4 linked regions of the Homo sapiens genome follow. The protein of the gene in region 3 interacts with the protein of the main gene of each other region in a biochemical or structural test. Each region holds a gene or a part of one and is shown on either strand. Other genes may lie near its edges. The genes, in order: UBE2G2, PSMD4, PRKN and UBE2L3.

Evidence for each region.
Region 1: the proteins of PRKN (region 3) and UBE2G2 form a complex in vitro, tested with the Homo sapiens proteins (6 studies listed by BioGRID).
Region 2: the proteins of PRKN (region 3) and PSMD4 form a complex in vitro, tested with the Homo sapiens proteins (6 studies listed by BioGRID, with this or other methods).
Region 4: the proteins of PRKN (region 3) and UBE2L3 form a complex in vitro, tested with the Homo sapiens proteins (52 studies listed by BioGRID and IntAct, with this or other methods).

The regions. Positions count from the first base shown.
Region 1 is NC_000021.9:44,784,028-44,792,348, reverse strand, and holds part of UBE2G2 (ubiquitin-conjugating enzyme E2 G2), read left to right. Parts: intron 1-4,253; coding exon 4,254-4,289; intron 4,290-4,383; coding exon 4,384-4,429; intron 4,430-8,321. UniProt on the Homo sapiens protein: Accepts ubiquitin from the E1 complex and catalyzes its covalent attachment to other proteins. In vitro catalyzes 'Lys-48'-linked polyubiquitination. Involved in endoplasmic reticulum-associated degradation (ERAD).
Region 2 is NC_000001.11:151,257,734-151,266,054, reverse strand, and holds part of PSMD4 (26S proteasome non-ATPase regulatory subunit 4), read right to left. Parts: intron 3,895-8,321; coding exon 3,754-3,894; intron 2,142-3,753; coding exon 2,027-2,141; intron 1,224-2,026; coding exon 1,137-1,223; intron 890-1,136; coding exon 821-889; intron 662-820; coding exon 446-661; intron 52-445; coding exon 1-51. UniProt on the Homo sapiens protein: Component of the 26S proteasome, a multiprotein complex involved in the ATP-dependent degradation of ubiquitinated proteins.
Region 3 is NC_000006.12:162,716,650-162,724,970, forward strand, and holds part of PRKN (E3 ubiquitin-protein ligase parkin), read right to left. Parts: intron 1-8,321. UniProt on the Homo sapiens protein: Functions within a multiprotein E3 ubiquitin ligase complex, catalyzing the covalent attachment of ubiquitin moieties onto substrate proteins. Substrates include SYT11 and VDAC1.
Region 4 is NC_000022.11:21,619,084-21,625,225, reverse strand, and holds the end of UBE2L3 (ubiquitin-conjugating enzyme E2 L3), read right to left. Parts: intron 3,712-6,142; coding exon 3,557-3,711; 3' UTR 1,192-3,556; downstream 1-1,191. UniProt on the Homo sapiens protein: Ubiquitin-conjugating enzyme E2 that specifically acts with HECT-type and RBR family E3 ubiquitin-protein ligases.

The sequences.
Region 1 (8,321 bases), on a different chromosome or scaffold from region 3:
AGATTCGGGTAGGGACACAAAGCCAAACCATGTCATTTCTCCCCCTACCCCTCCCAAATCTCATGTTCCTTTCAAAACCATTCCATTTCAAAACAAATCATGCCTTCCCAGCAAGGCCCCCAAAGTCTTAACTCATTTCGTCATTAACTCAAAAGTCCAAGTCCAAAGTCTCATCTCTGACAAGGTAAGTCCCCTCTGCCTAGCAGCCTGTAAAATCAAAAGCAAGTTAGTTACTTTCAAGATACAATGGAAATACAGGCATTGGATAAATACTCCCATTACCAATGGAAGAAATTGGCCAAAACAAAGGGCTACAGGCCCCCATGCAAGTCCGAAATCCGGCTGGGCAGTCATTAAATCTTAAAGCTCAAAATGGTCTCCTTTGTGACCCCGTGTCTCACATCCAGGGCACACTGATACAGGGAGTGGCTTTCATGGTCTTGGGCAGCTCTGCCCCTGTGGCTTTGTAGGGTACAGCCCTCCCACACCCACCCCCTTCAGCTACTTTCATGGTGGGCATTGAGTGTCTTTGGCTTTTCTAGGTGCACAGTGCAAAGCTCTTGGTGGATCTACCGTTCTGGGGTCTGGAGGATGGTTGTTCTCTTCTCACAGCTCCACTAGGCAGTGCCCCAGTGGGGACTCTGGGAGCTCCAACCCCACATTTCCCTTCTGCAATGCCCTAGCAGATGTTCTCCATGAGGGCCCTGCCCCTGCAGCAGATTTCTGTCTGGACATCCAGGCGTTTCCCTACATCCTCTGAAATGTAGGTGAAGGTTCCCAAACGTCAGTTATTGAATTCTTTGCACCCACAGGCCCAACACCACGTGGAAGCTGCCAAGGCTTGGGGTTTGTACTCTCTGAAGCAACAGCCTGAGCTGTACCTTGGCCCTTTTTAGCCATGGCTGGAGCTGGAACAGCTGGGACACAGGGCACCAAGTACCAAGGCTGCACAGAGTAGCAGCGGGGCTGGGCCTGGCCCACAAAACCATTTTTCCCTCCTAGGCCTCCCTGCTTGTGATGGGAGGGGCTGCTGCCAAGATCTCTGACATGCTCTGGAGACATTTACCCCATTGTCTTGGCGATTAATATTTGGCTCCTTGTTACTTATTTGAATTTCTCTCCAGAAAATGGGTTTTTCTTTTTTATTGCACCGTCATGCTGCGAAGTTTTCAAACTTTTATTCCCTGCTTTCTTTTAAACACGAGTTCCAATTTCAGATCATCTCTCTCAAGTTCAAAGTTCCACAGATCTCTAGGGCAGGGGCAAAATCTCACCATTCTCTTTGTTGAAACATAGCAAGGGTGACCATTGCTCCAGTTCCCAAGAAGTTCCTCTTCTCTTTTTCAGACCACCTCAGCCTGGGCTTCATTGTCCATGTCACTATCAGCATTTTGGTCAAAAGCATTCAGCAAGTCTCTAGGAAGTTCCAGACTTTCCCACATCTTCCTTCTTCTAAGCCCTTCAAACTGTTCCAACCTCTGCCTACTACCCAGTTCTGAAGTTGCTTCCACATTTTCAGGTTATCTTTATAGCAGTACCCCTGGTACCAATTTACTGTATTCATCTGTTTTCACACTCCTATAAGAACTTCCCTGAGACTGGATAATTTATAAAGGAAAGAGGTTTAATTGACTCACAGTTCCACATGGCTAGGGAGGCCTCAGGAAACTTATCATGACAGAAGCCGAAGGGGAAGCAAGCACCTTCTTCACAAGGTGGCAAGAAAGAAGAGTGAAGGAGGAACTTTCGAACACTTATAAAACCACCAGATCTCATGAGAACTCACTGTCATGAGAACAGCATGGAGGAAATTGCCCCCATGATCCAGTCACCTTCCACTAGGTTCCTCCCTCAACACCTGGAGATTACAATTCAAGATGAAATTTGTGTGGGGACACAAAGCCAAACCATATCAATGGACATTTGGGTTGTTTCCAGTTTGGGGCTATTACGAATTTAGCTACTATGAACATTCACACAAAAGTCTATGGCAACATAAGACCCAGTAGAATTGCTGGGTCTTAGAGTCAATATATATGTAATTTTAGTGGAAATGGTCAAACTTCTTTCCCAAAGGGTAACCAAACCATTTTGCATTCCCATCAGTGGTGCATGAGAGATCTACTTGCTAAACTTGCCAGCACTTTAAGTCTTTAATTTTGGCCATTCTTTTGTGACTAAAGATACTGATAATGCTGAAGCTATTGAGCTGTATCTTATTGTGGTTTTAATTTGCATTACCCTTATGATTCACAATGTTGAGCATTTTCTCATGTGCTTATTAGCCATCTGTTTTAGTCAGTTCAGGCTGCTGTAAAAAAATACCAAAGACCAGGGAGCTTAAACAACAAACATTTATTGCTCCCAATTCTGGAGGCTGGGAAGTCTGGTGAGGGCTGTCTTCCTGGTTTGCAGATGACTGTCTTCTCCTTGTGCCCTTACATGGCCAGAGGCAAATCTCTCGTTTCTTCTTATAAAGGCACTAACTCCATTCATGAGAGTTCTGCCCTCCTGACCTAATCTCCTCCCAAAGGTCCCACCTCCCAATACCACATACATTAGGATTCAACATAGGAATTTTGGGGGGACGCAAGCGTTTGGACCACAGCATCATTCGTGTTGACTCTGACAGTGGCTCTTTTCAACTCTGCCTCCATTTTTCTTCTTACCTATTTTGATTTTTATATGTGGTGTGAGATGGGGAAAGTTTGATTTTTTTTTGTCTTAGAGATGAGCATCATTCATGGAAAAGACTGCCCTTTGCCTCTGGGCCATAGCTCTGTGTTCCCTCGAGTCAGGGTCTCTGTTGGTACAGGTATGCTTCTGGGCTTTCTCTTGTGCCCCATTGTTCAATTTAACTTTGAGCCAGTGCTACGTTGCCTTAATTTCCATAGCTCTGTAAGGAAGGCTTGGTAACTCATAGATGAAGCTTTCTGTTTATTCTTTTTTTTTTTTTTTTTTTTTGAGACAGAGTCTTGCTCTGTCACCCAGGCTGGAGTGCAGTGGCGCGATCTCGGCTCACTGCAACCTCCGCCTCCTGGGTTCAAGTGATCCTCCTGCCTCAGCCTCCCAAGTAGCTGGGACTACAGGTGCATGCCACCATGCCCGGCTAATTTTTCTATTTTTGGTAGAGATGGGATTTCGCCATGTTGGCCAGGCTGGTCTCGAACTCCTGACCTGAGGTGATCCACCCGCCTCGGCCTCCCAAAGTGCTGGGATTACAGGCGTGAGCCACCGCGCCTGGCCCTCTGTTTATTCTTTTTAAAGATAGTGTCTTGGCTATTCTGGATTGTTTGCATTTTTATATATCTTTTAGAAAGATATATATATGCCTCATATTCAGCAACTGTGCCAAACTCACTTTTACTAATTATCTTTAGATTCTTTTGGGCTTTCCTGTATATATGGACATAGCATCTGTGAATAATGAGTTTTATTTCTTTTTCAGTCCTTATACCTTATATTTATTTGGCAAGGATTTATTAATTTTCTGTCTCTTCAAAGAACCACCTTTTGGTTTCATTGATTTTTTTTTTTCTGTATGTTTGCTTACTGTTTTATTAATTTCCCCAGTCTCACTCTGGTTGCCCACTGGACTCCAGCCTGGGCAACCAGAGTGAGACCCTGTCTCAAAACTAAGCAACAAAGTAACCAGCAGGAACAGTTTGGAAAGACAGTGTACCCCTTATGTTTGCTTTTGCATTTGTAAAAAGAAAAAGAAAAAGAAAAGTCTATGTTTTGTTGGTATAAAGAACTATTTGGGCCGGCGCGGTGGCTCATGCCTGTAATCCCAGCACTTTGGGAGGCCGAGGCTGGCGGATCACGAGGTCAGGAGATCTAGACCATCCTGGCTAACACGGTGAAACCCCGTCTCTACTAAAAATACAAAAAATTAGCTGGGCGTGGTGGTGGGCGCCTGTAGTCCCAGCTACTTGGGAGGCTGAGGCAGGTGAATGGCATGAACCTGGGAGGTGGAGCTTGCAGTGAGCTGAGATCACACCACTGCACTTCAGCCTGGGTGATAGAGTGAGACTCCGTCTCAAAAAAAAACAAAAAAAAAACAAAAAAACTTTGTGTAGTTGTTATCAGAACCGTTATTGTACTAGGTATTCACTTTGGGCAAACAGAATTTTCACTTGTTAATATGCATATTCTATGGTTTATAGGCTTATATATTTTGTAAAGGTGTTTTGTTAAAATGACAATGTAACATTTATTCTGTTTGGTAATGGTTTTACTTATTAATTTTATAGAATTAACACTGAATCCTCCGGAAGGAATTGTAGCAGGTAAGGTACCAAAGTTAACTTCCTTATAATTTACTTTTAATTGCCAAAGTTCCTTCAAAGTTAAAATGTTGTGAAATTTTTTCTCACCCTACAGGCCCCATGAATGAAGAGAACTTTTTTGAATGGGAGGCATTGATCATGTAAGTTAATTTTAGGTGTACTAGTTTTTAGGGCTTTGCTGGAAGTCAGATGTAAGAATCACATCAGCAGTGTGACTGTGTCCAAAAGCATCAGCTGGAAAAAAGACTGAGTTCTCCAGTAATGCCCAGCTCTCGTCTAGGCTGCTGGTCTGAAAGCAGAGAACCTGAGCATTGATCCAAAAGAAATGAGTGTTTCCTTAGAGCCAGTCAAAGGTTTAGTTATAATTATGTAATATATGTATTATATATTTGAGAGTTTTAAGGTGGTAATTTTGGAATGTTGTATGATCGTGGTTAAAATAACCTCAAATGGCGTAGGTGGCTTTGGCTTCCAGAAGTAGCCCCTTCAGGTGTGAAATTTTGACGAGAAAAGGGTCCTCAAAGATGTGTCTGACCACACCAGGCATGTTAGCGCAGCCTTGCCTGCCCTGCCTTTGGGCCAGGACTTCTTTTTCTTCTCCTTTCCTCCCAGTTCGTATCTTCGTGTGCTGCATCTCCTTTTTCTGTTGCCTTGTCTGGACTTGTTGGCCTTGTGTTCTTTCCGACCCAAGACATGGCTTAGTAAGTGAGCAGTGTGGTTCTGGGATTCGTGGCATTTAACTTAGGGTGACGTTGCTTGGAAAGAGAAACACATGGACCCCTGATTTTAGAGTGTTCTATGGCCTTGACTCACTTTGCTTTTTCTTCTTTCTACCTTAGATGTGCAATTTTTGGCCATTCTTAGTGTATTTTCAGCAAAGTGAGGTTAAATAAAATTTAGGAAGTTGAAATTTGTAATCAGTCTCTGTTTTCTTTCTTTTCTTTTTCTTTCTTTCTTTTTTTTTTTTGAGATGGAGTTTCGCCCTTGTTGCCCAGGCTGGAGTGCGGTGGCACAACCTTGGCTCACTGCAACTCCTGCCCCTTGGGTTCAAGCGATTCTCCTGCCTCAGCCTCCCTAGTAGCTGGGATTACAGGTACCCACCACCGTGCCTGGCTAATTTTTGTATTTTTAGTAGAGACAGGGTTTCCCCATGTTGGCCAGGCTGGTCTCGAACTTCTGACCTCAGGTGTTCCGCCTGCCTTGGCCTCCCAGAGTGCTGGGATAACAGGTGTGAGCCACCGCGCCAAGCCCAGTCTTTGTTATCTCATTAGTGAGGTCTTTTAATTTGCAGCAAGGTCTTGGGTTGGATTTTGTTGCATTGAGAAGTGCTCTAGAGGGCAAGGACCGGAAAAGTGAGGGCTGTGAAACAAGTGTGGGCTCTGGCTTGAAGTGATCTTAAGCTTCATGATGCTTTTGGAATTCGCCAGTTGCTTGGATCACATTAATTCTTAATGCTCTATGGGTTGGTCTGAGAAACAGATTGCAGCTAAGTGTTGTCTGTGGAGGTTAAATTGATATGAAAATTAGTATTTTGGATAAACAAAATGTTTTTAAAAAATCATCAAACGCTATTCAGATGGTACAGCACGCCTGCCATTTCCTGATCATTTGTAATATCCTAATTGCTTGGGCCTATGGCACATGTTTTTTCGGTGTCTGAAGGTTTCTGGAATCTGTGTTTGTGTGTAATGTGGCCCCCAAGGCAGTTATGAGATGGATGGCGAGTCCCACAGTCTGGGCTGTCCTCATTAGTGGACTGTGCGGCTGTATACTTGTATCGGGGCAGCTCTTTTTATTTCTGTAGAAGCAGGAGATCATATACATGAACTGATGTGTAACCTGCTTGTTTCATGTGTTAATGCAGGCGCACCTGCACTCATGCCAGCGGGGCAGCACGCCTGCTGCAGGGGCCCAGAGTGGCGGGAGGCCTGTCTGTGTGTAGAGGTTGAAGGCGCCTGTCGTGTCTGCAGTTATTTGTGGGGTGTTGGCTCCTCCGTAGGCCTATTTGGAAGCTCATTAAAGGAACAGTTGAGCCGTCCAGTGTGGTTTTAAAAAAATGTTCATTGTTAAAAATCGATTAGGGTAACTATTACCAATTTTAAATAAACAGTGTAAAATTAAACCAATATTTTGAAAACCTGTCTTAAAAAGTAATTAGAACTATTTTTAGGTAGAGCACTTCTGTGTTTGAACAAGGCTTTTTGCATTAGTTTGGAATTCCCCTGCTTGAAGATCCTAGTGAGTTTGTGGGTTTTGGTCCTGTTCCAGACCCTTCACAAACAAGAGGCCGTTTACAAGTGCACTTAAAATGCCTATTAGGGAATTAACTGTCCTCCCATCGATTTGTCTCACCCTGCTATTTTGGCAGACATCTGGCCAAGTCTTTGCTCCTTGGTGATAAGTTTCTTCTTTTTCTCTTTATTCTTTGATGGCTTCCAGGGCCGCCTCTCTACCCTAGTATTTCTAAAACCCGTGCTTGCCTCACAGAAGTCGAACGGCTGTTGGTTTTTGCTGTTGTGCTTGCCTTAAGGGCCAGTGAAGAAAATGTCATTTTAGATATCTAAGCAACAAACACTAAGTGCCTTTGATATGTTAGGGCCCTTGTCTGAAGATACAGACATGTCAAAGATGCACTGAAATCTTTACCTTGGAAGACCAGGGTTGAGGGATTAGGATGGAGAATAGAACAGATTAGTGAATGAGAGGACTAAATAATGAGAGTCCGCAGGCTGTGTCTTTAAACACCGGGAATAACTCTGCTGACCCTGCCACGCTCATGGTGGAGTCTGAGCCTGCAATCAAATCGAGCGTGGCTGGGATGGCGGCACACCAGGGGATGTGGCCACCGTGGCTGTGGGTGCTAGCATGGCCTGCTGCTCTTGGCCCAGTCACTTTGCCTCTCTTTGACTTATTTGGATCAAAACAGAGAGGTTTATCAGCATCTTCTAGACAGATGGTTACAGGTCTTGCCCAGCTCTAGGGTCCATGGCCCGTGACCCCATTGCCACTAAGCCACGGTGACGGGGGTGTAGCTGCAGAGAGGGTGGGTGCCCTCTTTCATTGATGCACTTATGTGGGACAGAAGGAGTCCTAGACAGCTGTTCATCCCCAGTGGCCGGACAAGGCGTGGAGTCCCTTGGCGCTTGCTGTCCTCTGTGTCCTGCCCCAGCATTCCCAAATCAGCTGGCTTGGTGACCTTCTTGTCTGGTTCATGCCTGACTGCTGTCACCTCCCCAGACCAGTGGTTCTAGAGGCTGTGGTGAAATAAGAAGGACCTTCCTTTACTGAATGGTGTGTTTGGGGCCCAGTTGGTGGATGGATGCTCCCAGGTTCTCCAGCTGGCTCATGGCAGCCAGCTTGAGGGCTCCCAGGCTGCCGCGGCTTCTACCAGGAGCCCTTCTCACACTGGGGGCCAGTGTCCGGGGCACAGCAGCCTCCCTTTATGTCCAGGTTTCTTGTTGACTGAAGACTGTCACAGGGCATCTCTTGGCAGTATTATGCCTTGCTGAAATAAACCCGAGATAATAAAATAGGTGTTTATAATTTGTATTGTATGTAATCTCACCATAGCATTTTCTTCAACAAAAGTGTCACAAAGATCCCTATATGAAGAAGTTATTGCCACATTCATTGCAGTAATAATAATAAAAAAGGAAACATCACTGTTCCACATAATTTATGGAGCATCTATATAGAGTAATGCCATGTAGCTGTAAAACAGTTCAGGTGGAATTTTCATCCTGGCATGGAAAGATGTACACAATATAAATGGAAAAGGCGGATTCTAGAATAATAGGTCTGGAACCGTCTGTCCGTCCTTCCTTCCTCTCCTCTCCTCCCTCCTCTCTCTCTTCCTTTCTCCCCTCCTTTCTTCCCTCCCCTCCCCTCCCCTCCCTTTCTTATGGAGACATGGTCTAGCTCTGTCACCCAGGCTGAAGTTCAGTGGCCTGGTCACAGCTCACTGCAGCCTCAAACTCCCAGGCTCAAACAATCCTCCCACCTCAGCCCCACAAGTAGCTGGGACCACAGGTG
Region 2 (8,321 bases), on a different chromosome or scaffold from region 3:
GGCCTCCTCCTCCTGCCGCTGCCGCTGCTCTTCCATAGATACACGAAGGGCCTGGTGAAGGGCAGGGCATAATCAGGGCTCCCCTGCCCTCACTCCTACAGGGAGCTGGGAAAGTCAGTTGGGGTGTGGGAAAGGAACATAAAGGGGCAGCTTCTGGTTTATCACACAGAGAAGAAGCTGGAGGGATAAGCAGTGGTACGGGATTAAAAAGTAAGGACTTGGGAGAAGCCTCGGTTTTCATCAGAAGTGAACAAGAAAGCATCTGACACTGGTGCCCCTAGAGATCAGACAGCATTATAGGGAAGAGGCGGCAAAAGGAGGTCTTGGAAAATGAGTGATTGGTAGTGTCTAGGACTATCCAGCCTGATAGAAGCTCTGTGATGTGTGTGCCAGAAGAGAACAAAGAGGGACCTTTGGACTCTACCTGGGGTCAACATTTGCTCACCAAGGCCAGCTCAGGATCAGCACTGGGATCTACTCCAAATTCAAAGTCACTGGCACCAAGACCCAGCATGGCACCACCTTCACCAGCCAAAATCGGAGAACTGATGAGAGCATCAGCCAAACTGGGCCCAGGAGGCACTGTCACCAGATGAGAACCGGTTCCATCTTTGCCATTCAACGTGTTTACAAAGGCTGTCAGCTTTTCTGTGTTCACCTCCTGGGGAGGAAAGAACACATGATGCCCTTCTTCAGGCCTTGCTCCCTGTTCTTTCCCATTTCTGCACTACTCTGCCACAGTACCCGCACTCCTCAGGGTTAAGGACCATTCTGTTTATGACCAAATTAAGTCAATGCCCTCCAATCAGTCCCTACTCACCTCTTCCCCAAAATTGATAATGTCAACATTTACTTTCTCCTTCTTGAGGCGTTTAGCCAGTTTCACCAGCTGGGAAGAAGGGGAGAAAAATCAAGAAATCTGTTCCATACTCGAGGGGGGGAAAGGACCCGCCGCATAAAAGCATACAGAAATCTATTGACCTCCCCAAGGTCCTCCAACAGAATCACTGAATTCTCCACATTCACCTTTCCCCAAAGTGATGAGCCTGATGCCTCTGCCAGGTTCTCCTGAGGGCTGGAAGACCTCAGTCCCAAACATGGGCTCCCCACATTCCCCAGCTGCCACTTGGACTCACATCCTTCTCATTGTCCTCCACTGGGCTTCCCACAAAGGCAATGATGCGCATCTTGTGATTCTTGCCTTGTCGGTGCTTCAGAGCCAGCTTGTAAAGGGAGAGGAAGTTCTCAGAGTTAACCAGAGGAATCACTCAGCTCTTTCCTCTGTCACTCGGTTCCCTTTTTCTTACAGTTTCTTTGTACCTGAAGTACACCATCTACCATCACGTTCACACAAGATTTAACACCCCCACCTCCTCCCTTTTTGCTATGACTCTCTGTGCATAAAGAAGGGAGGTTAATTCTCTTTCTCTCTTTTTTTTTTTTTGAGATGGAGTCTCGCTCTGTCGCCCAGTCTGGAGTGCAGTGGCGTGATCTCAGTTCACTGCAACCTCCACCTCCCGGGTTCCAGCGATTATCCTGCCTCAGCCTTCCTAGTACTGGCTAATTTTTATATTTTCAGTAGAGATGGGGTTTCACCACGTTGGCCAGATTGGTCTCGAACTCGTGACGTCAGGTGATCTGCCCGTGTTAGCCTCCCAAAGTGCTGGGATTACAGGTGTGAGCCACCGCGCCCGGCCTTTTTTTTTTTTTTTTTAGAGAAACAGGGTCTCCCTATGTGCCCAGGCTGGTCTTGAACTGCTAGCCTTCAGCAATCCTCCTCCCCTGGCCTCCCAAAGTGATGGGATTACAGGCATGAACTACCACGCCCAGCCTTAATTCTCAATTCTAGGGATTTTTCCCTTCACAACCCTCAACTACCCTGGGATTCATCCCCCATATCCTTTCTACTCCAAGTTAGCTTTCTCTTGCTCTGGTCCTAGCTCAGGATTCCAGGGGAGAAATGAGTATGATGGAGGCAGGACCTCAGAGCAGGGAGGAAAGGTCCAGGGAACCCAGTAGGACTCACATGGGCCACGCGGATGCCCGTGCAGAAGGTGATCTTGCCCTTGGGTTGGACAGTATGTAGCTTGGACAGGATACGGCCAGTGTCTGGGGTGAGTGTGGTCAGCACTTCACAGTCACTGGGATGTAGGAAAAGCATTTCAGTGAATTCAGGTCAGCACAAGTACCTCTAAACTGTGTCTAACTTTTATTTATTTATTTTTTAGACGGAGTCTCACTCTGTCACCCAGGCTGGAGTGCGTGGCGTGATCTCGGGTCACTGCAAGCTCCGCCTCCCGGGTTCACGCCATTCTCCTGCCTCAGACTCCCAAGTAGCTGGGACTACGGGCACCCACTACCACGCCTGGCTAATTTTTTGTATTTTTTTTAGTAGAGACGGGGTTTCACTGTGTTAGCCAGGATGGTCTCGATCTCCTGACCTCGTAATCCGCCCACCTTGGCCTTCCAAAGTGCTGGGATTACAGGCGTGAGCCACCGCACCTGGCCTGTGTCTGACTTTTCTTTAAAGACCTGGATAATAACCATTATTTCTATTCTAATTGTAATCTCTATTCTTCTTTTTTATTTTTTGAGACAGAGTCTCGCTCTGTCACCCAGGCTGGCGTGCAGTGGCGAATCTCAGCTCACTGCAACCTCCGCCTCCCGGGTTCAAGTAATTCTCGTGCATCAGCCTCCTGAGTAGCTGGGATTACAGATCTACACCACCACGCCCGGCTAATTTTTGTATTTTTAGTAGAGACGGGGTTTTGCCATGTTGGTCAGGCTGGTCTCGAAATCCTGACCTCAAGTGATCCGTCTGCCTTGGCCTCCCAGAATGCAGGGATTACAGGCGTGAGCCACTGTGCTTGGCCTCTATTCTTCTCAATCAAACATCTAGTATTTAATGGAAACCAAGCACAGAAATAATTAAGTGGCTGGCTTTGTAAGAAAGCTGCCCTCTACTTCCAAATATTTTCCCCTAACTCCTTTTAAAGGCTCACAGGGCCCTGAGAATCCACCAAAATAACGATGCTAATTTGTATCTCTCCTGTCCTCTCCACCTCCAGACCCATTCTCCTAGCTAACAGTATGTACACTGGAGTGGGAGGCTACTCATTTAAGAATTATCAGTTCCTAAAACAAAACACTTTCAGGGTAAAAGGATGAGTGATATATGCCCAGGGGCTCTGATCCAAAAATTACTTTTTTCTTTTTTTTTGAAATGGAGTCTCATTCTGTCGCCCAAGCTGGTGTGCAGTGGTGTGATCTTGGCTCACTGCAACCTCCGCCTCCCGAGTTCAAGCGATTCTCCTGCCTCAGCCTCCTGAGTAGCTGGTATTACAGGTAGCCACCACCATGCCTGGCTAATTTTTGTATTTTTAGTAGAGACAGGGTTTTGTCCTGTTGCCCAGGCTGGTCTCAAACTCTTGGGATTACAGACATGAGCCACTGTGCCCAGCCCAAAATCACTTTTCACTGACTTTAAAATATATTATGAAATTTCACCCCCTACCCTAGCCCTGCCCAACAAACAATAAAAAGAAACAGAAATTTCACCCCAGGAGATTTAGCTTCCGTACTACATTAAATACAGGTTAATACAAAAAACAAGTTGCTATTGACATTTACACTAAATAGTGCAGAAGGCAGTCTAGGAAGGTGATGGGCAAAAGCAGCTTCATGGAATCTAAAGAAGAGTAGCATGTAACAACCACCCACCTACTGAGTCCCCTCCTCCTCTGTCCCCCATACTTAGCCAGTGTGATAAGGCCCACGTTGTTCTCAGGGTTGCTGCGGGTCTTTGAATGACAAACTATGTTGACAGCATCCTGCTGGGCCTGCAGCCTGGTGGGTAAGAAGTCTCCATTCCGCATATACTCACTGTTGTCCACACTGTCAGATTAGGGTTGAAGGACAAGAGAGAAGAAATGTAGAAGTTTTCCAAAACCTTCTCTCCAGTTCCAGAGGCCCCCTATAGCAGCAGTCTTCATAGCATCACCTGTAGCTTTTTTTCTTTTTTAAATATACAGATGATCAAGCCTTAGCCCACATTTATTGACTCAGAATAACCAATGAGGAATTTTTTTTTTTTTTTTTTTGAGATAGGGTCTTGCTCTGTCACTCAGGCTGGAGTAGAGTGGTGCACTAATGGCTCACTGCAGCTTCCACCTCCTGGGCTCAAGTGATCCTCTCACCTCAGCCTCCCAAGTAGCTGGGACTATAGGTGCAAGCCACCACGCAGCTACCTTTTAAATTTTTTTTGTAGAGACAGGGATCTAGCTATGTTGCCCAAGCTGGTCTTGAACTTCTGAGCTCAAGAGATCCTCCTGCCTCCACCTCCCCAAGTGCTGGGATAACAGGTGTGAGCCACCTGGTGCCCAGCCGAAAAAATTTTTAAATCCTTACAAAATGATTCTGATGAGCACCAAAGGTGGTGATCTACTGATGAACCACAGCAATTTCTTACAAGCTGCACTTAAGTGCTACTAAGCTTTGTCATGGATAAATACTCTAAGTCTGCCATTAAATGGCAGTAATCCAAATATAGGAAATGAAGAAGGTAACTTAAAAATATCTATAGCTGGGCGCGGTGGCTCATGTCTGTAATCCCAGCACTTTGGGAGGCCGAGGCAGGTGGATCACCTGAGGTCAGGAGTTCAAGACCAGCCTGACCAACATGGAGAAACCCTGTCTCTACTAAAAGTAGAAAATTAGCTGGGCGTGGTGGCACATGCCTGTAATCCCAGCTACTCGGGAGGCTGAGGCAGAAGAATCGCCTGAACCCAGGAGACGGAGGTTGTGGTGATCACACCATTGTACTCCAGCCTGGGCAACAAGAGCAAAACTTCGTCTCAAAAAAAAAAAAAAAAAAAGAAAAAGAAAAAAAAAATCTATAAAATAGGCTGGGCACAGTGACTTATGCCTCCCAAGTGCATCCCAGCACTTTGGGAGGTGGAGGCGGGTGTATCACCTGAAGTCAGGAGTTAGAGACCAGTGTTGGCTAACATTGTGAAACCCCGTCTCTACTAAAAATACAATAATTAGCCAGGTATGGTGGCGCACACTTGTAGTCCTAGCTACTCAGGAGGTTGAGGCAGGAGAATTGCTTGAACCCGGGAGGCCGAGGTTGCAGTGAGTCAAGATCACGCCACTGCACTCCAGCCTGGGTGACAGAGTGAGACTCCATCAAAAAAAAAAAAAAAAATCTATAAAATAGGGCCAGGCATGGTGGCTCACAACTGTAATCCCAGCACTTTGGGGGGCCGAGGTGGGCAGATCTCTTGAGCTCAGGAGTTTGAGACCAGCCTGGCAAACATGGTGAAACCCTATCTCTACTAAAAAATATAAAAGTTAGCCGGGCGTGGTGGCAGGCACCTGTAATCCCAGCTATTCGGGTGGCTGAGGCAGGAGAATCACCTGAACCTGAGAGGTGGAGGCTGCATTGAGCCAAGATCGTGCCACTGCCTCAAAAAAAAGAGGTCTATAAAATAACACACACTTGGCAGCACTGAGTGCAGAAAAGTACAATGCAATCATCTCATTAAATGCTTAACAGCTTTGACAGCTGAACTGAACGGTAAAAATGAGGTTTTGTGGATCTGAAGTCTCACCTCTTAGATCCCTGCAACTTTTCATGATCTAAAAGTATCCAGCTAATGTGAAATATAATCTCGAGTTTCCCAAAGACCAGAAGAAGGCAGGTAAGTGATGCAGTTATATAAGCTCCTGTAAGGATCAATTCTTGATGACCTCTGAGGTCCCTGAGAGCTCTAATAGTTAAGGTTCTACCTGTGCTAATGGACGGAAGCAGTGCCTTAGATGAGATACCTCATTTCTTTCTTTTTTTTTTTTTTGAGACAGAGTTTCGCTCTTGTTGCCCAGGCTGGAGTGCAATGGCTCGATCTCGGCTCACCGCAACCTCCGCCTACCAGGTTCAAGCAATTCTCCTCCCTCAGCCTCCTAAGTAGCTGGGATAACAGGCATGCAACCACCATACCCGGCTAATTTTGTATTTTTAGTAGAGACGGGGTTCCTCCATGTTGGTCAGGTTGGTCTCAAACTCCCAACCTCAGGTGATCCACCCACCTCAATCTACCAAAGTGCTGGGATTACAGGCATGAGCCACCACACTTGGCCCTCATTTCTTCTTTTTAGAATTTTATCTATTTTTTAGGCTGGGCATGGTGGCTCACGTCTGTAATCCCAGCACTTTGGGAGGCCGAGAAGGGAGAATCGCTTGAGCCCAGGAGTTGGAGAACAGCCTGGGCAACACAGGAAGACCCAGTCTCTACCAAAAAAAACCACATTTTTTATTTATTTTTTATTTTATAGAGATGGAGTCTCACTTTGTTGCCCAGGCTAGTCACAAACTCCTAGACTCATGTAGTCCTCCTGCCTTGGCCTCTCAAAGTGCTGGGATTACAGGTGTGAGCCACGGCACCTAGCCAAGACATCTCATTTCTATTGGCAAGCAAAATGTGAGCCTGGGGCAATTTTTTTTTCTTTAGTATGCTTTGTTTGGCAATAAACCAAAAATGGTAAAGAGAAGTAATTAAGAAGGTACTGGAAAACAAGTATTAACAGAAAAGGGAATATATAGGTTAAGTACACTTAATCAGAAACTCTTGAGATCCGAAATGCCCCAAATCAGAAAGTTTTTGAGTTTTGAGTGCTGACATGATGTTCAAAGGAAATTATCACTGGAGCACTTCAGACTTCCAGATTAGGGATACTCCGCTGGTTAAGTATAATGTACATATTCTAAAATCTGACAAAAATCCAAAATCTGAAACACTTATGGTCCTAGCCATTTCAGATAGGGAATACTCAACCTGTCTAGGGTAGTATTCAGGCACAGGTTCAAGCGCAGGCACAGGTTCAAGCGCAGTCACAGCTCACTGTAGCCTCAACCTCCCAGGCTCAATAGATCTTCCCACTTCAGCTTCCCGGGTAGCTGGGACCACAGGCGTGCACCACCATGCCAGCTAATTTTTGTATTTTTAGTAGAGACGGGGTTTCACTATGTTGGCCAGGTTGGTCTTGAGCTCCTGACCTCTGATGATCCGCCCACCTCAACCTCTCAAAGTGCTGGGATTACAGGTGTAAGCCACCGCACCTGGCCATTTCACATATTTTTTTGAGACAGGATCTTGCTCTGTCACCCAGGCTGGAGGCCAGTGGTGAAATCATAGCTCACTGTAACCTCAAACTCCTGGGCTTAACCCCTTCTCCTGCCTCAGCCTCCTAAGTAGCTGGGATTACCGCCAAAACCTTTATTTTAAAAGAGAATACAGGCTGGGTGTGATGGTTCATGCCTGTAATCCCAGCACTTAGGGAGTCCAAGGAGGGAGGCTCTCTTGAGCCCAAGAGTTCGAGACCAGCCTAATCAATATGACAAAACCCCATCTCTACAAAAAATACAAAAAATAGCTGGGCATGGTGGTAAGTGCCTGTAGTCCCAGCTATTCAGGAGGCTGAGGCAGGAGGATCACTTGAGCCCCGGAGGTCGAGGCTGCAGTGAGCCAAGATCACACTACTGCACTCCAGCCTGGGTGACAGAATGAGACCCTGTCTCCCCCAAAAAAAAAAAAAAAAAAAAAAACACTCGAAAAGGGTAATACAATGGCACATGTGCAAGGCAGTCACATCAACAGCAGGTTCCCCATGATGCACTACATGGGGCCAAGAACTATGTGCATACTGCCACAAAAAGAATAAAATACCTTGGCTGGGTGTTGTGGCTCATGCCTGTAATCTCAGCACTTTGGGAGGCTGAGGCTGGTGGATCACCTGAGGTCAAGTGTTCGAGACCAGCCTGACCAATATGATGAAACCTCATCTCTACTAAAAATACAGAAAAAAATTACCCGGGCATGGTGGCACGCACCTGTAATCCCAGCTACTCGGGAGGCTGAGACAGGAGAATCATTTGAACCCGGGAGGTGGAGGTTGCAGTGAGCCGAGATGGCGCCACTGCACTCCAGCCTGGGCAACAAAAGCGAGACTCCATCTCAAAAAAACAAACAAATAGACAAACAAACCTAGGAATACAACTAACCAGGGAGATGAAAGAGCTCTACAATGAGAATTACAAAATACCGCTCAAATAAATCAAAGAAGATATAAACAAGTGGAAAAACATCTCATGCTCATGAATAGGAAGAATCAATATCATTAAAATGGCCATACTGCCGAGCATGGTGGCTCACACCTGTAATTCCAGCACTTTGGGAGGCTGAGGTGGGCAGATCACTTGAGGCCAGGAGTTCAAGACCAGCCTGGCCACATGGCCAAACCCCATCTTTACTAAAAATACAAAA
Region 3 (8,321 bases):
GTCCAGGAGAATATTCACACCTTCTTTTGCCACCTGAGAAAACTACCTTGAAAAGTGAGTTATGTCCTTGGCTAGCTTCATCAACTAGTCCATACACCCTACCCGCCTGCGCGCGCGCGCACGCACACACACACGCGCACACACACACACACACACACAGACTCCTCATGTGTAACACTACTGCATTACCTTTAAGTGACCTCACAATAGGCAAAAATCAAGTTGTAGCTCTCTGTCATTCTTCCTTCATAAGGAAGTACCTAACCATACGTTCAAATGGTGAAGCATTACTGGTAACTGTGGTGGCTGAATAATGCCTCCTTGTCCCTGAAACCTACGACTGTTTCCCGATATGACAAAAGGGACTTTGCAGATGTGATTAAGGATCTGGAGACGAAGAGGCTATCCTGGTGGCTCCTGAATGTAACCCCATGTGTTCTTTTAAGAGGAAGGCAGAGCAAGATTTGATGGCAGTAAAGGAGAAGGCAATGTGACCACAGCAGCAGAGACTGGAGTGATGTGGCCAGGAGCCAAGGAATGCCAGCAGCCTCCAGAAGTGAAAGAGGAGTCTCCACAGGAGCTTCTATTAATGGAAGGGGCTAGCCCAGCGAACACCTTGATTTTAGTCCCTTTTAGTCACTTTGGGGCTGGGCACAGTGGCTCACACCTGTAATCTGACAACTTTGGGAGACTGAGGTGGGAAGATGACTTGAGCCCAAGAGTTCAAGACTAGTCTGGGCAACATAGCAAGATCCTGTCTCTACAAAAAATAAAAAATAAAAAAATTAGCCAGGCAGGTTGGCATGCACCTATAGTCCCAGCTATTCGGGAAGTTGAGCCCAGGAATTCAAGGTTGCAGTGAGCTGTGTTTGTGCCACTGCACTCCAGTCTGAGTGACAGAGGGAGATCTTGTCTCAAAAAAAAAAAAAAAAAAAAGTCATTTTGGACTTTGGGCCTCCAGAACTGTAAGAAAATAAATTTGTGTTTAAAAGTCACTAAACTTGTGGTAATTCGTTACAGCAACAACAGGAACTACACAAAAACTAATACAGTAATCTGGCCATGCCCCGATAGTGTATAATATTAAAGAAAGTGAAATTATGGTTCTAATGTTTGTTTTCCTGAAAACACTACTTTTATGACCAGAACATGAGCATAGTATGCTACCATTGAAAATTTATCTGACATAATTTGACACAAAAGTAGAATCCGTTTTAAATGTATTACCACAATGCATTTGTCCTGAAGATTGTGTTTATAACACATTGCTTTTCAGTATTTCCAAAACATTATACGCTTAACGCTGAAGATCTGAAAAACACAATCATAATAAAAGAAAACATCCCACAACCCAAAGATATAATTTGCCGGTATACTTCCTGATATTTTTACATATACAAATGGCCCCTAATGCTATCTAGTTTCCAGTTATGGTAACTAAATGGTCACATTAACACTTTTTAAAAAAGATCTTTCCCAATTATTAAGAACTCACACATATTTGTCCATCTTAGATCACTTAATCATCCTATCATCACTGTTTTAAGACAAAAAAAATCTTATTACTTCTAGGAACTTCATCTCAAATAGCATCCCCATCCCCTCTCTGACTGACTTTACCTGTATAACTTGCATTCTATTAAGCATAAGATGATTAAATTGGCTGCAAAAGCCAGAAGGGACTTTTAATGAATTTACACACTAAGAATTGTGACAACTATGTCTTGATCCAATATGAAAGTTTCTTAGATGTTGAATCTCCATTAAAAATTATTCCAGAGGCCAGGCGCGGTGGCTCATGCCTGTAATCTCAGCACTTTGGGAGGCCGAGACAGGTGGATCACGAGGTCAGGAGATCGAGACCATCCTGACTAACACGGTGATACCCCGTCTATACTAAAAATACAAAAAAAATTAGCTGGGCATGGTGGCAGGCGCCTGTAGTCCCAGCTACTCGGGAGGCTGAGGCAGGAGAATGGCGTGAACCTGGGAGGCGGAGCTTACAGTGAGCCGCGATCACGCCACTGCACTCCAGCCTGGGCAACACAGCAAGACTCCGTCTCAAAAAAAAAAAAATTTATTCCAGAACTGTCCCCCACAAAACAAAATAGAGTTCTAAAATGGGCAACAATGCCCAGAAATTGCCAGAACATAAAAAACAAGCACAGAGACTTGGTATAAAACTCAAGACACTGAGAATAAGATTATTTGGTGACTTCTTTGAAATCAAGATGATATAAAAGTCAATACCTATGTCAGAAGCTCTGCATGTAGTGAGACACGGCAGATGCCACACACACATACACACACACACACACGAGAAAGGGACAATGAATAATGGAGAAAACTCTAGAGAGGGACAAAAGGAAGAAATTCCAATTCCAATCATAGGTTGAGCATCTCACAGATTCCTAAATGAACAAGAGTGGAAAGCCCACAACAGATCTCTACGAAATATCACTCTCTGTATCATATGATTATGTCTAAATTGACTGCCCAATAAAACACATATACTTCCCATCTGATCCTATGAATTCAGACATATTCATGTAAAAACGTCTTTATATATTGTCACATGTAATTATACAAATTTGGTGAATATCAACTGGATCATGCAGTCTACATTTGTCTGTGGTCAGGAGCCCAGAGAAGCAGCACCTCAGAGAACATGACCTCACTTGTGCTTAAATCTGTACCTCTCACACTCTGGGAACTCACCAGAGAGCTATAAAGGACTTTCAGGAGAAAGGAGGTCGAATTTCAAGGGTGGAGAGAAGACCCAGGGCACAGGGAATATTATTCTTAAATCTGTCTAATTCTCCAAGGAGCAAACCTAACTTGCCCCCATCCTCTAGCTGCCCAGAGTTCATCATTCCTCAATTTTGTTTCAATGGAAAAAAAAAATTGTAATCAGGACTGGATTTGCCTGGAAGGAAAATGCAGAGCCAGAGACTACAAAGATTTCCATTGCAGACAATTCCCAATCTAGGGAATGTCTCCAGTAGGAGCTGTGGTGAAGCCTGGTCTGTTCCGGTCAGGCCACTCCTGTGATAACCCTCAGAAACATTACAACCCACAGTCAAGCCCTGTGGCAACAAGTAAGGAAGAAATTCACCTGTTGTTCAGACAACAGCTGCTCCTTTGAGCTGAAGAATGAAATATTAAATTCCAGCTTCTGAGAAAATCAAGGAATGTGGGTAAGAAAAAAATGAGGGGACAGAAAAGAGGGAGTGCAGGTAGATGTCAAAAAAAAAAAAAAAAAAAAAAAAACTAAAGGTTGACCTCAGAAACACAGATATTACAAATGTTCCTTCCTATTTCTCCATTTTATTAATACGAGCAAGTTTCAGGTGTCTACTTCCTATCATTTCATGATCTGGAAAATGGATCTACTCTGCGGGTACAATAAGCTTTAAAAATGACTACGCAGTTACAGAGGGCTTCATCACAAGATCTTATTTATGCACTGAAACTCCAAAAATATCTCACAATAGGAGTAACTGGCGTATTCAACAATTATGTAAATAAATAATAAAAAGTCTCAATCAGGACACCAATATTAACTCCCTAATCACCAATTTTCCCCCTCATTTGATGAGGGTAGGAGTAGAGATGTGCAAAATGGGTGAGGCTGCTAACTATTGAACATTCTCTCCTCCAAAGTTAAGGGCTCTCATGTGAAACTTTATGGGGGCCTCTGTTCAGGTCTTACAGTAAAAGTAAATTGGAGAGAATCATCAAGAAGCCATCAATACTCTTAAAAATACACACATCTGTCCATAGATGGTCTTTTTTTTTTTTTTTTTTTTTTTGAGACGGAGTCTCGCTCTGTCGCCCAGGCCGGACTGCGGACTGCAGTGGCGCAATCTCGGCTCACTGCAAGCTCCGCTTCCCGGGTTCACGCCATTCTCCTGCCTCAGCCTCCCGAGTAGCTGGGACTACAGGCGCCCGCCACCGCGCCCGGCTAATTTTTTGTATTTTTAGTAGAGACGGGGTTTCACCTTGTTAGCCAGGATGGTCTCGATCTCCTGACCTCATGATCCACCCGCCTCGGCCTCCCAAGGTGCTGGGATTACAGGCGTGAGCCACCGCGCCCGGCCCATAGATGGTCTTAATATGTGCCTAGGTATATGAGTCATGCAGATATCTAAGAGGAAGAAACTATTCTGCACTATTCTGGGTGACACGATATCCACAGCTCTGATGACATTGTTCTCTCCACACAGAGAAGAAACTATAAATAGAACCCTAAGCATCATGTTCCACATATCAAAGAAGGAGATACAAACTATTTTTGGAATACAAATAAAGCTTTAGTAACATGAAATAAAACACCTGTCAATAAGAGACATTAATCTATTCTACAAAAATAAGAACTTTTTAAAAAGAAATATGGCCTTTAATCAGAGATGATGTAATGACATATCAAATCAATGTCAACACCCTGAGAAAAGCCATCTCCTACTGCACAATTACCCTGCCATTCTCAGTCGAAGACTGTCCTCTATTAAACATTATCTGGACTTCTTTCCTTTGTTTTATGGAGTGAGTTTATAAACGCTTGTTCTCCGTAACTAGTGATTTCAAGTATTCTGTTTTATCTAAGAAGTACAATGAAGGTCATGAGAAGTCCTCTATTAACACTTTATCTGGACTTGCTGGCACTAGTGTAACTATTTTCTACAACGTTCTATTTCATAACTTTCTAGTACTGCCACAGACATCTTTCTAAAATACAACCTGTTCATAATGCTCTTTTGTAGATAATGGTTCAGTGACTCCTCCCTATCGCCAACTTTAAACCTACCTCCTTGACAAAGCTTATCTGGTGTGCCTGCAGCCTCACCAGATACCTTTCATTCTATTCTCTTCTCTCCCCTCCATGCCTGTCTAGAAGGCCGCCTTCACCTAGTTAACTCCTACTTGTCCTGCAGGAAAACTGGAATGGCTCCACTGGGAAACAGCTGGATCTTCCAAGCTCTATAGGCTGAGTTTTCCAGTACTTCCTTGTATAAACCTATATTATGATACCCACCTTTCAGGTTTGTAAATCTTTACTTTTCTGTACCCCTTCTAGACTATGAACAAGGACCTGATGAAGGGTAGTTACTAAAATGTTGGCTGACTCTAAAGGAGGTGCTAATTGCCTCACACTAAAAAGAGGGTAAGAGGTGACATGGAAAATTTCACATAAAGTTGGTGCCATTGGAACTGGATCTTGAGTGATGAACAGTAGTTTTGAGATGTTCAACAGAAAGAAAGGGCATTCAGATCAACGAGAATCAAATGAACAAAAGAAACATGAAAAATCACGTGTTGCAGGCATGTATGTGTGTGCTGATATGTACATACATCTTTCTAATTACTCTTCTTCTGTGGTGGTGAAGGTGCAATCTATACCACCAATATAAGCCTAATCAGCCCAACTAGGCCACAAACTTATTGGGAAGAAATGGTCATTTCTATGTACCTTCCCCACAGGCAATATATAGACAAATACAACCTATGTGTACCCATCCCTACCCAGCACCATCTAATACATATGGTATAAAGAAATGACACTGAAATAATAATCATAAATACCTATTCATTCAAGGAAAAAAGGTTTCTATTTGGTGAAAAACAGACATTTGAGTTAATCTGTTAAGAGTCCTAGGTAATTAGGAAATTACTGGGGGAAAAGAATCCTATTACTGTAATTCCTTTTAACCAAGATTCTATGCTACAGGATGAAGTAAATAAGCCAGGGAGGTGAGCTGCAACATAAATCAGCCGACTGTCACATGAGTCTCTTTAATATTACAAAATTGAGGGAGAGAAACCATTCAGATTACTACGAAGAAACATTTAAAATGAGCTCATTAAATGCAAATTAAAACAGAAACATTGAATAAGCACTGGGCTACAATTAAAGGCTGCAGAAACAGCAGGTAAGAAACAATTTTCATTGATCAAAGAACTAATAGCTAACAGAATAAAGTATTTTGCATTAAAACTGCTTTCATGAATATGAAGCATTTCGAAGTAAGAACTCTTTTTTTTGCATTTTTCAAAGAAACTTTGGAGGTAGGAATGGATTTACATATCTTAATACAAAGTACTTTCATTGTATCATTTTCAGGCAATGAAACTATGAGGTTTCAAAAAATGCAGACTTCAAAAACATCCTCAGAAATAGGGCCAAAATTGTAAAGGGCAAAGGGTCATTTTAGAGCCTTTGGACCCAAGGAAGAACTATTATATAATTACATAAAATCTTCTATGCAAAACTTTAGTAGAGCCTATTTTTGACACAATTTTACCTCATTATAAACAGAAGCTTTGGGGTACTTAGGCATAGAGCTGGTTTTCATCAACTTATCAAAATGGCAGGGCAAAGAGCAGTACACAGTATATTCAACTAGAAATATAAATTGAGACTTTAAAATTCACTGCACACAAGCTTGAAAACAAATATGCAGATGTGTAGCCAAATGGTGAAGTCGGAATATACATTCCTGATGGCAAGGGACTTTTTCTGTTGTGTTCCCTCGTTTCCCTGGCACCTAGAGCAGTTAAGGGTACATAGCAGGTGCTGGAATCACTGGATCTGCTTTTGCAAAACTAACGCACTATAAGATGAGAATGAGAAGTTTTCTTCTAAATTAATTTGAAAAGTTAAAAGATACTGTTTTTCATCTGTCAAGACGGCAAAAATAAAAAATCTTCGATGGCACATGGGAGGAAATGGGCACTCTTATACACACTGAAAGGGAGGGCAGGGCCACCAAGGACAGTTGTGCAGCTTGTACACTGAAAGGCACTACCCCTAGGGTGAGAGAGAGGTGGGGGACCGGAGATCCAGGAGGCGTTCTGCTAGTGAAAGCTGAGTCAGTCTCAGGAAGGACGTCTTTTGGCAATTTTCAGCCCAGAGGGGCAGGGCAGCTCTTTACTACCATGTTGTATTAGTGGAGGCTTTAGATAGGCTTGTAAAATTGGGCAACTTATTTTGGAAAAATTTTGAAATACCTAGGAAAATGTAAAATCTACAAACTCTTTAACTCAAATTGTCATACGATTTTTATTTTACATCTATGCTTACATGTGCAAGTAAAAAGATATGGCCACAAACACTTCTGACAACAGTTGTCTGTAAACCTAATGAGTGCTTATTTATTGGTAAATATTTTCATAATTAGTGTATCCTATAAAAGACTAGGCAGGAATCGCTGTGGAGTGGATCTGGACATGCAGATATGTAAATTCTCAAAGAGATGCTAAGTGAAACAAGGTATAGAAGAGACTATGTTCCAATGAATGGTTTTTGTCAATCAAAAATCTTCTTAAAAGTCTAAGACACTGAATGTGTATTTCAATACTGACAACATTGTTGTATATATAACCATGCACTCTAATATCTGCTGTTACTCAAATACCTAAATCCAGTTCTACAGAACATTTAGAACATACCACAAATATCCCCACTAACATTCCATTTTAAACACAAAGAATTGCTCATTTTTAAAAAAGTCAAAATATATTTTTAATAGAGGTACCAAAAATTACATTTTTCTAAATTGAATTCTTTTAAGCTTTTCTATTCTGCTTTATATCATCTTGAAGTCCTTCTCCACACTTTCCACAAAGGCACAATTTTTAACCGACTTCAATTAAATTATGTTTCTGTAGCTGCCTGGGTCAGGGCATTCAACACATCAATCACAATGCAGGTGGGAAATGTAAGTACTTTTGAAACAGTCCTCATGCCAATAAGGGAATCTTCGGTTTTGAGAAAGTAAAAGGAAGGTACATGTCATTAGCAGTGAGGTCACAGTCAGTCCTGTTTACTCCTATTCTACCAGGAAACCCATCTTTACGTTTCTCCTTAAACTAAGCCAGGATTTAAATAAAGTGGCAGAATATTATTCGCAGTAAGGTTGAGGCGGGAAATTAAAGAACAATAAAATTAAAAAGAAAGAGAAATAAGTTTTCCTGTTTTAGGCTAACTTGTTCCAGAAGCAGCAACAGGCACAGCCTAGACCCAGGAAAAGTCTTGATAATATTATCTAATATGCTCTGGAGACTCTCTCAGCACTCCCTCAACACAGGGAGAAGAAAAACAAATTTTCCTTTGTTTTACAGAATGAGTTTATAGACTCTTGTTCTCTGTAACTAGTGATTTCAAGTATTCTGTTTTATCTAAGTAGTACAACGAAGGTCATAAAAAGCCTGAGTAGGCCTGAACTACAGCTGCCTGGGCACCACAGAGAAGGTTATAGGATAAGCCTGTGCCCAGGCAAACCTAGAAAACGAACATCTGGGTTGCTTGGCAATGGTCATCT
Region 4 (6,142 bases), on a different chromosome or scaffold from region 3:
GGCACTGCACTGCACTGGGAGCAATGGTACCCTCAGCTCCCCTCTGTTCTGGGTTGGTGCCCGGTTCCCCCATGCCATATCCAGGAAGCAGAGAGAGAAGGAAGAGCCAGGCAGGACAGGGTGGGAAATGCTGAGAGCAGCTCTGGCTTCTTTCAGGGCTGGGTTAGATGGCACCAAATGAAAGGAGAAGCAGCAAGGGGCAGCAGGTGACAGAAGTCAGGCTGCAGCGGGTACAGGAGTGATGAAATGGATGCTTATTTCATGCTGAACAATTAATAGTGAACAAGGCCAAAAATGGTGGCTGGTGGCTGTAGGGAAGAGGAAGTTGACAGAGGGGCTTAAAGGTCTCTGGCTCTGGGGAGGGTGGTAACTGGCTGTTTCTGGGCTCAGAGGGACCCTGTGGGAAGAAATATGCCAAATGGTGGAATGCAACAGGCTCTGCAGTCAGAATGTGAACAAAAACAGGCCAGGGGTCTTGGTTGTCTTTAAAAGCAGGGATAAGGATGCCACAGGGCTCTCCTGAGACTCAGAGGGTAAAGTGCTAGGTATGTTAAAGGCTAGTAAAATGACACCCCAAGAAGTTTCCTTCCCCAAGACCTGCAGATCCAGCTGAACAGTGCAGGCCTAGTCTCAGCTGGTGTCAAATTCCAGGCAGGGAAGGCCTAGCCAAAAAAGTCCTGGGTCTGGCTGAGCCCTTGCTGAGTTAGCACCACTGCCGCAGCACCCTGGCAGTGGGCTGTACTGGGGACTCAGAGTGTTTCTGGCTGGCACCATTCATGGACATGGCCCAGCTCCACCCACAGGCACACCCTTATCAATTCTGTGACCTCTTGGGACCGCAGGTTTGCCTCTTCTAAACATGGATTGTTAACACTCCCAGGAGGCTCCAGGATGACCCACGCATGTAAGTGATGCACCCACACTTTAGTCCCTGTCCCCTCAACGAGACGCCCAAGAGCGCCCTCTGCAGGCCCCGACTGTCTGAAGTCTCCGGCTTTCTTGCTGATTATACCTCATCTCCTTCCCTCTAGGGAGGCAGGAACACTTCTATGTACCTCTTTTGGAGAGGCTGGGAATGGGGAGAGAGATCAGAAGCCCCAGGACCTGGGCCCCAGCCAGCCCTCCCATCTCCAAGAGCATAGGCCCCTGGCACTGCCCGCTCCCAGGAAGGAAGAAACCCACACGACTAACCAGTGTCTGAGAGCATTTTTATTACGGGCAGCAGAACGGGATCGCAGCATCTTAGAAAGCCTATTCTCTGCCGTGGTGGGGAGTAGGGAGCAGAGGGAAGGACCCAGCACACTTCAAGAAACCAGGCGGGTGTGAATTCCTGAGTGAGCTTGGGGCAGCAGTGGGTGGCTGCTCCACAGCTCGCCCCTCCTCCAGAGGACCCAGCTTTTTGGTTTTGGAGCAGCCAGGGCTGTTCGCCAGCTTGCTCAGAGCCTACCCTGAAGGCATGGCTGGCAGGAGCAAGCCGCCCAGGCCCAAAGGAGAGACACCCACTGGCTCGAAAGCCAAGCCTCTGCTGACGGGGCCAACCCTGGGGTGCCAGTGCCAGGGCTGAGAGTCCCTGAGGGGCTGCCGGCACACAGGTATCCTCCCGTGATGAGCAGAGTGCAGTGAGGGGTTGACAGGCAGGCAGAGCTACGTTGGCAGAAATACGAAGCAATGGGACAGTTTCCAAGAATGGCAACATTTCTGGATCCAGAGAAGCAACAAGAACAAATGGTGGCTTGTTTGGATAGCTGACAGAATTTGGCATTTTATTACAAACTGGAGTGTGAGTGAAATAAAATCCATCATCACTTTTCTGCTAATGAAGACAGATGTGGAAACGCCAGCCCGGTGCCCTTGCCATCCCGGGCACAAGGGAGTCTCCAGAAACCTGCCCTTGGCGTACCTAGGACAAAAGAAGCCGAGTTCGTGTACACACCGCAGGGGCCATGCGCCTGAACAATGTTAGGCTGCCGAACCTGCCCATCACTCCCCACTTCTGCACAGACCAGACCAAGCTGTCTTACACGCCTGTAGGCCCCGGAAAGATCTCAAGTTATAGAATTAAAATTAAAACAAAAAGCAAAGTTTAAGTCATCTTCTCCACAGGATCTAGTCCCCCCCAAGAGCCAAGAAGGGAAGCCGCCAGTGGCAGAAGCGGGGTTGGTGACACACGGCATTTGGATCGTCGGCTTCCTTGGGGTGTCAGAGCGACATGGATTCTCTACTAGTGCGGGGACAATCCCATTTGCCTTGAAAAGACATTAATATTCAAATCTTTACAAGTTTATCTGACGATAAATTCTAAGGTCAATTTTTATTTCTACAAAAAAAGGCAGTCAAAACAATATAAAACACATTGAAAGGATATTACTGAGTGAGCTTCAAGTGGAGCTTGACTCTGCAAAGGCTGTGAGTCCGAAGGGAGAGGAAGTCCGTCTTGTTCCCGGGCTGGGCTGGCTGCTCTGGAGGAGGGGGTCAGCAGGGGCCCAGGCGACCCCAGACTGGTGCTTTAAATAGCCGAGTCCTGCTAATTCCAATCCTACAAAGGGTCAAAGTGTGCCGAGGGAGGGCTGTGGCAGGGCCACTGCACGGAGGAAGTGGAGAGCAAGCTCCGTGGCACATTCGGATGAAGCTCGGTGACAGATGAGCTAGGAGTTTCAAACGGACATTCTGGCTGTAGCTTTGCCTGCAAGGACCAGCAGATCTTCTACAATGGCTGCAGGGAGAAGTGCCAACCTGGGACCTCAGGAGCCTTTCTGGCGAGATTCATCACACACAGTGTGCACAGCATCCTCCTGACTAGCAGGCCCCCCATTTCGGGGCCACCACAGACCTGTGATTATAGGGCTTCTCTGTGCAGGCCAGGCCAGAGGTCAGTTACACACACTGACATCAGGGCTTGCCCAATTAACTGATGTTACTGTGGTAACATCAGCTGGAGTTTCACACAAGAACTGAGGAGAAGGACTGGAGGAGGGGTGTGGCTGTTTGTTTTTAAATTTTTTAAAAGGATGTTATAAACTGGAGTCAGGAGAATTTAAACCAACTCCCACACTGGGCAACAGTGCCACACATGCTAAGAAAAGCCACCAGGACCGCCAGGGCAGTCTCTTCTCCTTTGTGGAGGCGAGCCCGGGGTCTGGGGAAGTAAGTAAGTGAAAAATAAACTCGGTGCCAGAAAGTGGGAGTGGCAAGGGTAGGGAAGAAAGGGAACCACAACCGTTTTTTTTCCTTTTTTTTAAACCTTATGGGTTAAATGTAACTTGAAGATTTTGGATAAAATTGGACAAGAAAAGAAACACCATTCTTTTGAAGTAGATTGAAGCAGTGATTTTTAAAACAAAGAGAGCAGAACTAGAACATCTTAAATTTTTAATCCTTTCTTTACAGGTTACCTAGACCACTTTTGATTAAGAAAACTGTAGAAAGTTAGTAACTGCCACAAGCGAACGCCAGGCGGTGGCACGTGTCAATTTCCACAGAGTCCTGCTTTGCGGGGTGTCTGAATGCACTGCACGGGGTCTCTGCTCACACTTGCTGGAACCAATCGTGGCAGATTTTAGTCCACAGGTCGCTTTTCCCCATATTTCTTTGTAAACTCTTCAGCATTCTTACAGAATTTTTTACGGTCCTTAGAGTATTCTTCAGCTAGGTCAGCCCGAAGCGGGTGCTCAGGCTGGGGGTCATTCACCAGTGCTATGAGGGACTGGATTACTGCCAAGAGAAGGACAAGGCATGGGGGGTTAACACAGTCTCAGAAATGGCACAGGCAAGAGGCAGCTAATCCGGGAACAAAACTCTGGCTTTACAACTGATTTACAGCTAATGTGCTTTTAAGCCAAAGCTGCCTCCTATTTATCCAAAATTCTGACTGCCAGAAAACTCATCTTTCCTCTGTGATTAGAAGACACTGATGGACAACAAATAGCTAACACTACAGTGGATAATTGTTCACAGTGATGTGCTTCCGCCTCCAGGAAGCCTTCCTGACCTAACACCTGGGGAGGTCTTAGCCCTCAGTCACTCCCAGCCCTTTTTTCTTGGCGGGGGGTTGGGGAGGAGGGACAGGGTCTCACTCTGTCACCTAGGCTGCAGTGCAGTGGCACCATCTTGGCTCACTGCAGCCTCAACCTCCTGGGTTGACCTCAAGCAATCCTCCAGCCTCAGTCCCCCAAGTAGCCAGGACTACAGTCGTGCACCACCATGCCCGGCTAATCCAGTCCTCTTGTGTACTCTGGAGATAGGAGGCCTAGTATTGAACTGACTGCTCACTCTCATGCATGCACACAGGGTCACTTTCTTCAGGGCAGGACCGGGTAGAACTTCCCTGCATCAGCCCAGCACCCAGCACCATGCTCGGCTCAGGGAAGTTTCGGTTAAGGTGACTGAGTGGGCACTAGAGAGAAGGGTATGTGATGGCGCTGCACTTGTCAATGCGCAATGACCCAACTCTGGAAGACCCTTAGGAGTTTCTGAACCCTCTAGAAAGGGTCACTGGGGCCAGCCAATGGGAAGCTGACAACCGCCATCGCATCACATTGTCAAGACCACAGGCAGATGTCACGCTGATGGCTCTGATGGGTGCCACAGTACTCCCCCTAGGTGCCGTAGCCCAGACGTGCCCCAGGGTGGAAGGATAGTGGGGAATCAGAAGCAGCTGCTACCCACACCTCCTCACATACTTTGCCACAGTTGCCCCCTGACCCTGTCAGGACCAGCACCCTCAGAATGTTCCTTCCCACTGTAAAACAGTGCCCCTCTTCTCCGAACTGCTGATGCCACAAATTCCTTCTTATTTTTTTTAGACAGTCTTGCTGTCACTCAGACTGGAGTGCAGTGGCTCAATCATACTTTACTGCACGGTACCCTCAAACTCCTGGGTGTAAATGATCCTCCTGCCTCAGCTTCCTGAGTAGCTGAGACTACAAGCACATGCCATCACGTCCAGCTAATTTTTTTTTTTAACCTAGGCTAGAGTACAGTGGTGCAATCACAGCTCACTGCAGTCTTATCTCCTGGGCTCAAACAATCCTCCCACCTTGGCCTTGAGAGTAGTTGGGATTACGGGTGTTAGCCACTGCTCCTGGCCTAGTTTTTTGTAGAGATGGGGTCTCACTATGTTGCCCAGGCTGGTCTCAAACTCCTGGGCTTGAGTGATCCTACCGCCTCATCCTCCCAAAAGTGCTAGGATGACAGGCATGAAGCCACTGCACCTGGTCAATTCCTTTATTAAGGGCTCATATTGTTCATTCAGCATTACAAGAAATGGATTAAAATGCAAATGCTAGCCAGGCAGATCACCTGAGGTCAGGAGCTCAAGACCAGCCTGGGCAACATGGTGAAACCCCGTCTCTACTAAAAATACAAAAATTAGCCAGGCATGGTGGCCCATGCCTAGAGTCCCAGCTACTCAGGAGGCTGAGGCAGGAGAATCGCTTGAACCCGGGAGACGGCAGTTGCAGTGAGCCGAGATCGTGCCACTGCACTCTAGCTTGGGCAACAGAGCGAGACTCTGTCTCAAAAGTAAATAAATAAAACAAAATGCTGATGCTGGCTGAGTCATATGCAAAGGCATAATCATTCAACAGCACACATTAAGTGAGGGCCACAGCACAAAGTACTCCTGGCCTGGTGTCCAAAACCCACCTGCCTAACCTCTGCTTTTTACTGTGCCTGGTGAGAATGGGAAAGAGAGGGCTCCTGTGACCACAGTGGGTAGAGGTGAAGCAGTGGGGCAGAGGCGAGGAGGGCATTGCGCATGCAATGCTGACAGGTTCCACGTTTGTTGGGGGTGGATGGGCAAGGAGGGTGGACTGTGAACAGCAAGCAGGGGCAAGGGGCCTGGAAAGCTCTCTGCAGGCCAGGGTGGCCTCTAATTCAGTCTCTAAGCCTCTTCAGGGGTAGGTGGTATCACCTCCCTGTACAAGCCACCTGTACCTCTAGAGGCAGCAGGCCCTGGAGGTATATTTTTATTTAATAAACATTTATTTATTTATTTAATAAACGAAGCCCACCCTTGGCTGACTGGCCACAGTGTATTTCAGTGCACACCACCCTCGGTGTGAGACTGCTCCCTTTTCCTGGCTGTTCTTGACTTCAGGGCTGGAAATTGAGCCACAGTCGCCTAAGAGCACAAATAGGTGGC